Homo sapiens: one gene and its partners. The protein of the gene in region 1 interacts with the protein of each later gene in a biochemical or structural test. Each region holds a gene or a part of one and is shown in the gene's direction. Other genes may lie near its edges.

Region 1 (2,852 bases):
GATGGGCTGGGTGGACCCACTGCCTGGGGTGTCGGGTACAGGCAGGTGGACCCATGGCCCAGCTCCCAGCCCAGCAGCCTGTTAGGAACCTTGTACAGGGGCCCTTGACAATTCTGCTTTTCTTCTGGAAGGTTTGGGAAGTATTCGCACGACGAGCTCTCCATCCTGGTGCCGCTACAGCAGTGCTGCAGGTACAGCCCCTGCCGGAGCCGGCTCCAGCTCCACCCTCCTCCCTACTGCGCAGGAGACAGAGGAGGCCACAGCCTTCCCCACCCCACCCCGGCCATCACATGGGAGAGAAAAGGCCCCGAATTCAACCACAGCCCTGAATTCAACCCACACCCTCACTCGGCGGCCTGGAGGCGCAGACCTCACCCGCCCACCACCCCAGGCCCATCCAGCTCGAGCCCCCTCGGGCCTCCACTCTGTGTCCGTCCTGCCACCCCAGTTACAGAGAGAGCTCGAGGCCAGGGCAGACGCCAGCTGAGACACAGGGACCCTGCTCCCGCACGCAGCTGCCGGTCTCTGCCACTGCCACCTTCTGCGGGGGTTCAGACCCCCTTTCCCCCGTTTCATGGCTGGGGACGCAGGCTTGCAGGGCAAACGCTTTGTACTTCTCTAAGGAGGCATCACAGCGCCCGTGTTGTGCGGATGTGCTGAGCTGGGGTCGGTCTCCTGGGTGAGTGGGCCGCCCTCCTCACCTCCCCATCCTCCTGGGTGAGCGGGCCGCCCTCCTCACCTCCCCATCCTCCTGCCGGGCCCCTCTGGGAAATACACCGGCCACCACATCCTGCAAGGGCACCCTCATCCCTTGTGCAGGTGAGAGGCGGCAGACCACGCCGAAGCAGGTCACACAGCCCGGAGGCTGATGAGGTGTTGGATCGCAGGCCCCTCTCTCGCGGTCTCTCTCGTCTCTGCCGTCTCTATCTGTGTCTGTCTCTGTCTCTCTCTCTGTCTCGGTCTGCCTGTTTCTCTTTATCTGTGTCTCTTTCTGTCTGTCTGTCTCTGTCTGTCTGCCTTTCTCTCTCCCTCTCTTTCTCTCTGTGTCTCTCTTTCTCTGTGTATGTCTCTGTCTTTTTCTCTCTGTCTCTGTCCCCCTCTTTCTCTCTCTGTCTCTCCCCCCACTCTCTCGATCTCCCTCTCACTTTCTCTCGCTTTCCCGTGGGCAGGCATCTCCCCTGTCCCGTGCCAGGCCTGATGCCCCTCTCCTCCCCAGGATCCGGAAGTCCACCTACCTGCGTCTGCAGCTCCTGGCCAAGGAGGAGTACAAGCTGAGCCTGCTGATGGCCGAGTCTCTGCGGGGGGACCAGGTGGCACCCGTGCTGTACCAGCCGCACCTGGAGGCCCTGGACCGGCGGCTCCGCGTCGTGCTAAAGGCCGTCCGGGACTGCGTGGAGAGGAACGGGCTCCACAGCGTGGTGGATGACGACCTGGACACTGAGCACAGAGCCGCCTCGGCGAGGTAGTGTCCGCCGGCCGCTGCGCTGCCCGGGACGGAGACAGAGGCGCCGGACCTCCCAGCAAGCGCATGCGCCCGTCGTGAATTCAGTGAATTCAGAGGCAGGACGGGATCATCCGGAGTCGGGAGCTGCTGCCACAGGAGGCGAGGCTCCCCAGGTCTCATAGGACACATTTTGTCAGTGTTTGACCAGAAAAGCTTGGGAAGGAAGCGCTGTCTGTGCTCACGGACAGAGGCGGCCGGCGCCGGAGGCATTCCATCCTTTCTGTAGGGAAAGGAGCCTTTATTTACTATTTTGTATTTATATTTGATGAATAAGTATATAAACAGAGACGTGTACACAGATGCCAATCACCTACCAAACCAAACACGAGGACCGCCCTCCCTGGTTCTGGGGGCCCCTCAAGGCCAAGCTCACCCCTCAAGTGCTCTCACACTCGGGACCTAATTCAAGTAAAAACCCTTTCTCCTTCCTGGGGCCTCGGCTCCTGGAGGGCTGGAGGGTCTCGTCTGAGGACGGGAGGAGGCTCTCGCTGGACGTCTGGCCTGTGCGCTGGTGGACGGATGCCTACGTGGTTTTGGAGGACCCGATGACCAGGCGTCCTGCGAGTCCGCCCGCTGGCCTGCAGCACCCACCTCGGACTTGGCTGTGGACGGTTGGTGCAAGTGCATCCTGCAGGGCTGGCTGTGCGCAGCTGTGGGCTGACCTTTGCAGAGTTTTGTGGAATAGTTTGCAATGTCATAAAAGTGCAATAAAGGTACAGCAGATGTGTGTCGGCCTCACGGGGCGGGTCCCTCACACCCTGGTGTGTGGCTGCCTGTCCACCCCCTCTCCAAAGAAAAACCAGTCCTGGAACCAGGCATGGCCAGGAGTCGGCATTCAAGGTGGCCTGGACCCGAGGCCTGCTGGGGTCGGAGGGGGCTGCCTGCCAAGCCCTGGTGCAAACAGGCCAGGTGGGGCCCCACCTCCAAGGCAGGGCGGTCCGTCCTGGGTTGCTCTCAGAGGCTGGGGCCGCGACCCAAAGCTGCGGCGGCCCCGAGGGCAGCCCCTGTCTGTAGCCCTGGCATGGGCAGCTTCCAGTGTTCCAGCAGGACTGGGCAGCCATGCGTGGGGCAGCTGCCCCGGGGCTGTGGTGAGTGAGGGGCACCGTGAAGGGTGCCAGCCCCTTCCCACTGCTGGCCTCGGGGCTGCAGAGATGGGGCTGGGCTCCCAGGCCAGCATCTCCCCTGCTGGCACCATGTGAGGGGCAGAGGCAGGAGCCAGCATGCTGGCTACCACCTGCCCAGCGTCACACGGCCCAGGAGCCCTAAGAAATCAGCTGTGGGGCCGGTCACTGTGGCCCCCTCTTCTAAGAGCCTCTGCATCCACTCACCTGTCCGTTCCACAAAGTCC
Region 2 (3,750 bases), on another chromosome or scaffold:
ATTTGAGCCCAGAATCTGGGAGATAGGCAGAACTCTGGACTGTAAAGAATGGCCCAGCAAAGAGGAAGAAAATGGGCATTCTAAGTTGGTGCAATAATATCAGCACAGGAGAAAAGACAGAATATTGGGGGGAGTGGGGAGGGAGGAAGAGGCTGTTGATGAGCCTGATATCATTAACAGAGACCTCATGTGAGGTGCCAGATTACAATTTATTGAATGTACTGAATGCATAAAGCATAAGACAGAAACCTGGAGCCATGCAGATACAGGGAACCCAGGACAAGTCATTATGATGCCTCAGACAATATAATTCGCAGATTCTCTATCAATAGCAAAGTAAGATTTAAGGTGCTGTGAAACAGTCAGATCCTTCAAGAAAAACAAGAATACAAGGGGTCCTGGAGACAGGAAAATATGATCATAATAATAAATTTGTGATTCCTTCTTTCTCTCTTTTTCTCTTTCTTTCTTTTTCTTTCTTTCTTTTTTTTTTTTGATGGAGTTTTGCTCTCGTTGCCCAGGCTGGAGTAAAATGGCATGATATCAGCTCACTGCAAACTCCACCTTCCAGGTTCAAGCAATTCTCTTGCCTCAATCTCTCGAGTAGGTGGGATTACAGGTGTCCACCACAACGCCCGGCTAATTTTTTATATTTTTAGTAGAGAAGGGTTTCACCATGTTGGCCAGGCTGGTCTTGAACTCCTGACCTCAGGTGATTCACCCGCCTTGGCCTCCCAAAGTACTGGGATTACAGGCGTGAGCCACTGCGCCTAGCCTCTGTGTGTTAAGTGCTGGAACTATAGTTTACAGTAGCATTTTATCCTCCCAACATACCCTATCAGGAAAAATTATTATTGTCATCCTTATTTCACAGATGTCAAAACTGAACAGAGAGGTACAGTAACTTGCCCAAGACAACACAGCTAGTAAGTGAAACTGAAATCTGGACAACTGATTTTTTTCAGCCAAGCTCTTCAAGCCCGCTGCTATGCTGCAGCTTAGCTGGCGACAGGCCCTTATCAAGGCAGAACTGTGCCTTGATAGAGGCCAGGAAGGCGATTCAGAGCAGTAGGCCTTGTCCATGTGTTTGTTCCCTGCTTCTTCACCACTTGAAAATAGTGTTTCAGTGCCCAGTAACAGGGCACAATACTCTTTTCCTCAGATTAAAAGGGGAGCCATCTGCTTAAGGTGGTTGGGTGCCACTGCACTGCACAGAAGGTTCTCCAAGTGTGAGCTTGGACCCAGGCAGGCCTCAGGTCAGTGGTAACGGACGACTGCTTCCGTGGTGTTGGCAGGTGGAAATGGAGGGATACAGCTTTGTCCGGCTCATGAATCCCTGGGCATTGTCCCGCCTGCTAGAGCCTCTGATCTCTGCCCCTTCTTCACCTGCAGTAAAACAGTCACTAGTTTGGTTGCTCTCCCTAATACCTCTGGTCACTGGGAGCTGTGATCTCACCAAACCCCTGCCAGGAAAAGCCCCAGAAAAAGCGGAGGGAGTGAGAGCCAGAGGCTGCTGCTGCCGTTTGCAAGAACTGCAGGGGAGGAGGACGCTGCCACCCACAGCCTCTAGAGCTCATTGCAGCTGGGACAGCCCGGAGTGTGGTTAGCAGCTCGGCAAGCGCTGCCCAGGTCCTGGGGTGGTGGCAGCCAGCGGGAGCAGGAAAGGAAGCATGTTCCCAGGCTGCCCACGCCTCTGGGTCCTGGTGGTCTTGGGCACCAGCTGGGTAGGCTGGGGGAGCCAAGGGACAGAAGCGGCACAGCTAAGGCAGTTCTACGTGGCTGCTCAGGGCATCAGTTGGAGCTACCGACCTGAGCCCACAAACTCAAGGTAACTCAGGTGTGGAGTCCGGGTGGGCTTCTCTAGAGAGGAAAATCTATTTCTTTTAGAGAACATTCCCTTTGCAATGTCATGGCTTTTTTTTTTTTTAACTTCAGGTAAGTAAATATAACTAATAGGAGAGTATACTGAATTAAATAAACTGGGCAAATGCTAATTTTGCATCCAACAATGTAGTTTATCATTCTGAGGGTTTAGAAAGCACCCTATTTGATTGGTTAGATGCTACCTTCTTTTCAAGTTTATTTTCAATACAGTTTTGTTAGTATGTTTGTGTTGGCTTATATATTGGTTAATTCAAAGGCACCAGGCACTTGCTCCCTCATTAGCCCTTCCTGCAAACTCCTGTTCCAGATTTTTAGTTGTATAGTATTTTTATGAGACTCCTAGTTACATATTATTTATTCCATTGTCTACATAGCTTCATCTTCTAAAACTAAAAATGAACACCTTGTGCTTTTTGTCATATAATTTTATTGCTGCCTTATAAATGACTTTCAAAATATCATCAGTTCTTGTATGTTTTTGTACTTTCACCTTTTTTCTGCTTCATATTTGACTTATTTATCCTATTGAATGTGACTCTTCATTTTTTTTTCTCTCTGTTCATCATGTCCTGGGATATGGTTTACCTTGGCTACTTAAAGGCATATGTAACTGAGAGGAGGTTTAATTCAGATAAAATACTATCCTTGAGTTGCAAACTATTTTTTCTAATTGAAATGTTAAAAATAAGACTTCTCAGAAATTAACTAAATCATACAGTCTATTCAATATTTCCAGTTAGTTATTTTTTAAATGGTAAACCTGCTAGTGTGACTCACTTTTTTTCCTTACATCACACTTCATTATGAAAGATGTGTTCCTCTTTTACAATTACAAAACCAAAGTAATCTGCCAAAAAATAATGTAATATTTTGAGATCTTTTAGTGTATAATATTAACCTTTTTAAAACTCTCATTGTAACTGGGTTATTTTGGAGGGTATTACATACCATCTTGGTCTTATAATAAGAAGAGATCCCTCCTTCTCAAAAATAATCATTTTAAATATCGTACTTCAAAGTGATAATCTAGGTCACACCCACACCCTTTGGGAACTGCCGTAAGCTAAAACCCCAAGGAAAATAACAGTCCTTCTAACACTAATCTTGCCTGCTCATGAGTAGAATGCAGACTTGGTTGTTGGCTTTCTTGTAGCATGCTGGGTTCATGCTTGGGAGTTTTTTCTCTTGTCTGTAGTTAGCGTTGAAAATAACAAGCAAAATACCGGAGGCAGAACCAGATAGGGCAAAGGTCTGATTCACATGGTGAGTACACAGGGAACCATGACTGGTCATTCTGTCCCCTCATCCTGTGGGTAAGTTTCCAAAGTTCTGGAGATTCGTTCCTCTGGTAGGAATTGTTGAGTCAAAACCATAGAAACACAACCCAGACAAACTGTCATATTGTTTAACCCTAAATCATATCATTTCTCTCTAGCATTTTCTTATGAAAAATCTAATCCATATATCTGGCTGCTTAAACTAAGAACTTGTTCTAACTTGTCCTGCCCCTAGAGCTATGATACTCACTAGGTGAATATCAACATAGCCAACTCCATCTTTTGGCAAAGTGTATTTTAGCACAAAGCAGACATCTATCTACTTATTTCATATAATATTAGCAGGACAATGCCTTTTAAAGGTAAAATGTATCTATTATTCTTGCTCCAAGTCTAAGGTGAACACTTTCAAAAATTTCCTTAGAAAACTTGTTTAGTCACTCACATGTATACAAAGAGATATTGAAGAAAAGATATACATACATTTTCCTTCTAGGGTTCTAGCTTTATATGATTTTGTGATTATGAACAAATCATCTTTAAACAATCCTTATAAATGAAAAACTCGTCGTACACATTGTTTGAATTC
Region 3 (3,750 bases), on another chromosome or scaffold:
CCGAGGGCTGCGTGTCAAGCCCGCACATTGAGGCCTGCGGAGAACTGAGACCCCAGTCCCCGCAAGCCCAGCCTACGCAGGAGAGCGCTGCCCTCTAGCGACTATAATGGGACATGCAGCGCGGCCGGAGCCCCGCGGGAGCAGCGCCGCTGCAGGTCCTAGCGACTGTAGAAATCAGCCCTTTGCAGAGGGCGCAGAGGGCCTGGAAACCTCTGGGACCTTTTCCCAGGAACTGTTTATGGTTTCCCCCTAGGTCTAGGAGACATAGATGCATAGGTGGATTGGATACATCGATGGTAGCTATAAGGTAAGCAGACAATGGTCACAGATGGAAAGGTGGACGGACGGATGACGGATGGTTAGAAGATGTTTTGAGGGCTTGCTATAGTGCCAGGCACAAGGCTAAGAGATTTCGTCCACTATTTCATTTGATTCTCTCCAGAACCTTATGAATGGCATATTACCTCTGTTCCTATTTTTCAAATAGGGAAACTGAGGCCTCAGGCAATGTAAGCAGCTTGCCGCTTAGCAATCTTTTGCAGAGCCAGGAAGCGGGAAAGCGTGTCTTAATGGACAGTACCAGCCTCCACAGTGTGCCCTCGGCCCCCTCCCGGTGGAGAAGAGGTTCCAAGCCCCGGCGTCCCGGGTAGGGTGTCCCTCATCCCTCCCTCCCCACCACACTCCTGGCGCGCTGACATTACACCCGCCCCGGCACCCCCCTCTCACTGATCCAACACCCCCGGACACCCTGGACAGCGCTCTCAAGGCAGTAGGTCTTCGACTTGGGAGCCCCGGGGAGCTGGTTAAACACGGATCCTCTCCCACAGTGGCTGAAAAGCGCGCAGTCCCGGAACCTGAGGGTTTACCTGCTTCTACGCTTGGCCAAGGGTCTCTAACTGGAAAGGTGAAAATTCTGTCCTGAGATTTTAAGATTCCCAGAAACTTTCAATCGTTCAGTTCCTGTAACCATTAATTGAGCGCCTAAACTGCGCACCTTGACGCTGTTAGATGCTGCAGTAAGGAACTCGGAGTCAAGTGTGGGGGACAGGTTGGTCAATAAATGACGACATTCCGGACGGCTGTGCTTGGTGCCCACGGGGACCCGCGAGGGGGCCCAGGGAGGAGGCGGGAAAGGGGCAGGTTCACCGGCCCGCTGGGTCTCCAGCACATTCCAGAAGTCTAAGCCAGTCCATCTATCCTTCCAAACGCCCCCACCTCGCTTCCCTCCCTGGAGCCCGCATCCCACGGTGCAATTTCAGTGACTTTATGCGGAGAAACTTGATCCTATCTCACTCTCCCCAAACTTCCTAACTGCCTTGGGTTTGTCACCTGGCCGTGTGGGGAGCCACCGAGCGCCCCCTGTGGCCCCCACCCGAGCTCGGCGGGGGGAGCGGCGCGCGGGTGCTGGGGGACCGACCCCTCCCGCGAAGGCGTCGGCGCGGGGCTGGCGTAGGGCCTGCGTCAGCTGCAGCCCGCCGGCGATTGGGGCGCGCGCGCCTCCTTCGGTTTGGGGCTAATTATAAAGTGGCTCCAGCAGCCGTTAAGCCCCGGGACGGCGAGGCAGGCGCTCAGAGCCCCGCAGCCTGGCCCGTGACCCCGCAGAGACGCTGAGGACCGCGACGGTGAGGCCCTACGTCCGCCAGCACACCCGGGCCCGCTTCTCCCCGACGCCCGCCCTCCTCACACTTGCCTTCTTCTCTTCCCTCTAGAGTCGTGTCTGAACCCGGCTTTTCCAATTGGCCTGCTCCATCCGAACAGCGTCAACGTGAGTGAATTTGCCCGAAGCTTGTCTTTGCTGAGCGGGTTTGGGGACGTCTGCCCGCCCTCTTTCCCTTCACATTTCATTGCATGGGTTCCCCAACAGCGTTCCCTGGTTCTTCTTTGTGACCCCAGTCAATGTCCTGCCTCCCCCGGCTCCCGCTCTCTCGCCCCTGGTCTGCGGCGTTCTCTCCGGAATCTTGCCCTGGGCCGCGGACGCCCAGGAAAAGAGCCGGGTGCCCCAGGCAGCCTCGCGTTGGGGGCGACCGCGCCATCCCGGGAACCGCGAGGCGATCTGAGTCGCCTCCACGTCTACCTAAAAGCTGTCGGCCGGGAGGGCGGGGCCCCAGAAAGGAGCATTCCTGCGGGCTTTTGCTCGACGATCCCCTGCTGAGGCTGTCGCGGCGAGGGTCCTGCCGAGGGACCCCGTTCTGCGCCCAGGCAGGCTCGAAGCACGCGTCCCTCTCTCCTCGCAGTCCATGGCGCGGTTCCTGACACTTTGCACTTGGCTGCTGTTGCTCGGCCCCGGGCTCCTGGCGACCGTGCGGGCCGAATGCAGCCAGGATTGCGCGACGTGCAGCTACCGCCTAGTGCGCCCGGCCGACATCAACTTCCTGGTGAGTGTTGCGCGCGGCGAGTGTTGCGCACCTTGTGAGACAGAGTTTCCGCAACAGTACGCGGACTGCCTCCGGCCCACCGCGCGGCGCGTATGGCGGTTCGCACCGGGTCGGAGCCGCAGCGGCGCGAGCCCGTGGTGACCTGGGTGTCTCAGCTGTTCCTGGAACACTGACTGAAGTCCTGCCCTGGCTCTTAGCTTCGGGGATCCGCGACTATCTGGGGACCGGTAAGGGTAGCGGTGTCGCCGCACAAACCAAGTTTGTTTTAACCCTGGGAATTCGGGAACCCCGAGAAGTCCTCTGTTCAGCACCTCGGATAGCACTGGGTTCTCTCCTGGGCTGTCAGAAGGAAGATGGCTGTCACCACAACTCCTAACATATCCCAGCTAAGGGCCCCTCCACACGCAGTCATCTTCCCATCTTTCCCACAAATAATGTAATTTTTTGTTAGTGACATTTCGGTGCCTTTCTTTAGATTTATGTTCCCCAGCTCTCTTAACCTCAGGTCCCTCATTCCCTACCCTCACCTGTAAATAGGAGAGAGCAAAGGGATGGAAAAGGGGTACGGGGAGAGGAAGGCGAAATAACCGTAGACAGGAAAGAGTTCAAACTGTCTCACTAGCCAGTGATGCTGGAATTCAACTTCTGTTTCAACTGCCCTTTGTAATAGTAACTAAAACAACAGTTTAATTTGGCTATGAGAAAGGAACAAGAGAAGTGGCCAGTGTCCAATGGGTGACAACAGTCCAAAGATACACTGCACTACAGGGGGTTGGGGAAAGAAAAAGCTGAGGACAAAATAACTTTCATTCTGATCATGGTTCCCCATGGGCTGTCGAATCACCTCTGGTGCTCTACTGAGTCTGAATCTCCAACCTCGAGACTCAGGTAGCTTCACTTTTACCAGCTCCCCTGACAATTCCTTTGCATTGCTTTTGAAATTTGTTGAAATTTTATGGTGACTTAAAAAGCTCATAGAGAATAATGTATTCATCCAAGCTGCTTTGGGTTCCACCTGGAATTGAGGAAATTTTACCTTATGTAGATGTTTGAAATGGGGAGAAAACCAAGGAACAGTTTCCAAATATCTGTGGTATATATTTCAGGTTAAATGTTTGTTTCTTTGACCTGTGCTAACTTGGCATTAAAGAGAAGACACATAGGAAGGTTGTATATTTAAACTATGAGAAAAATGTTTCATCTTCAATAGGAGAAACAATCCCCTTCACCCATCTTTCTTCTTTCTCCTGTAGTCATGAGCTTTTAACCTATGCCTAAAAATTGAGCCAGTGCTACAAATATAAGGATAGATCTTGTGGATAAAGAATTTTAGACACAGAAGGAGGAAGAAAAATCCAAAACATGCCACATAGAA

What was found.
Region 2: of the proteins of FAM20C (region 1) and F5, one has a biochemical effect on the other in vitro, tested with the Homo sapiens proteins (one large-scale study listed by IntAct).
Region 3: of the proteins of FAM20C (region 1) and PENK, one has a biochemical effect on the other in vitro, tested with the Homo sapiens proteins (one large-scale study listed by IntAct).

The regions. Positions count from the first base shown.
Region 1 is NC_000007.14:258,515-261,366, forward strand, and holds the end of FAM20C (extracellular serine/threonine protein kinase FAM20C precursor), read left to right. Parts: intron 1-131; coding exon 132-191; intron 192-1,216; coding exon 1,217-1,466; 3' UTR 1,467-2,258; downstream 2,259-2,852. UniProt on the Homo sapiens protein: Golgi serine/threonine protein kinase that phosphorylates secretory pathway proteins within Ser-x-Glu/pSer motifs and plays a key role in biomineralization of bones and teeth.
Region 2 is NC_000001.11:169,584,307-169,588,056, reverse strand, and holds the start of F5 (coagulation factor V preproprotein), read left to right. Parts: upstream 1-1,575; 5' UTR 1,576-1,670; coding exon 1,671-1,828; intron 1,829-3,750. UniProt on the Homo sapiens protein: Central regulator of hemostasis. It serves as a critical cofactor for the prothrombinase activity of factor Xa that results in the activation of prothrombin to thrombin.
Region 3 is NC_000008.11:56,444,441-56,448,190, reverse strand, and holds the start of PENK (proenkephalin-A preproprotein), read left to right. Parts: upstream 1-1,549; 5' UTR 1,550-1,622; intron 1,623-1,690; exon of another isoform or gene 1,691-1,709; 5' UTR 1,710-1,765; exon of another isoform or gene 1,766-2,234; 5' UTR 2,235-2,237; coding exon 2,238-2,375; exon of another isoform or gene 2,376-2,384; intron 2,385-3,750.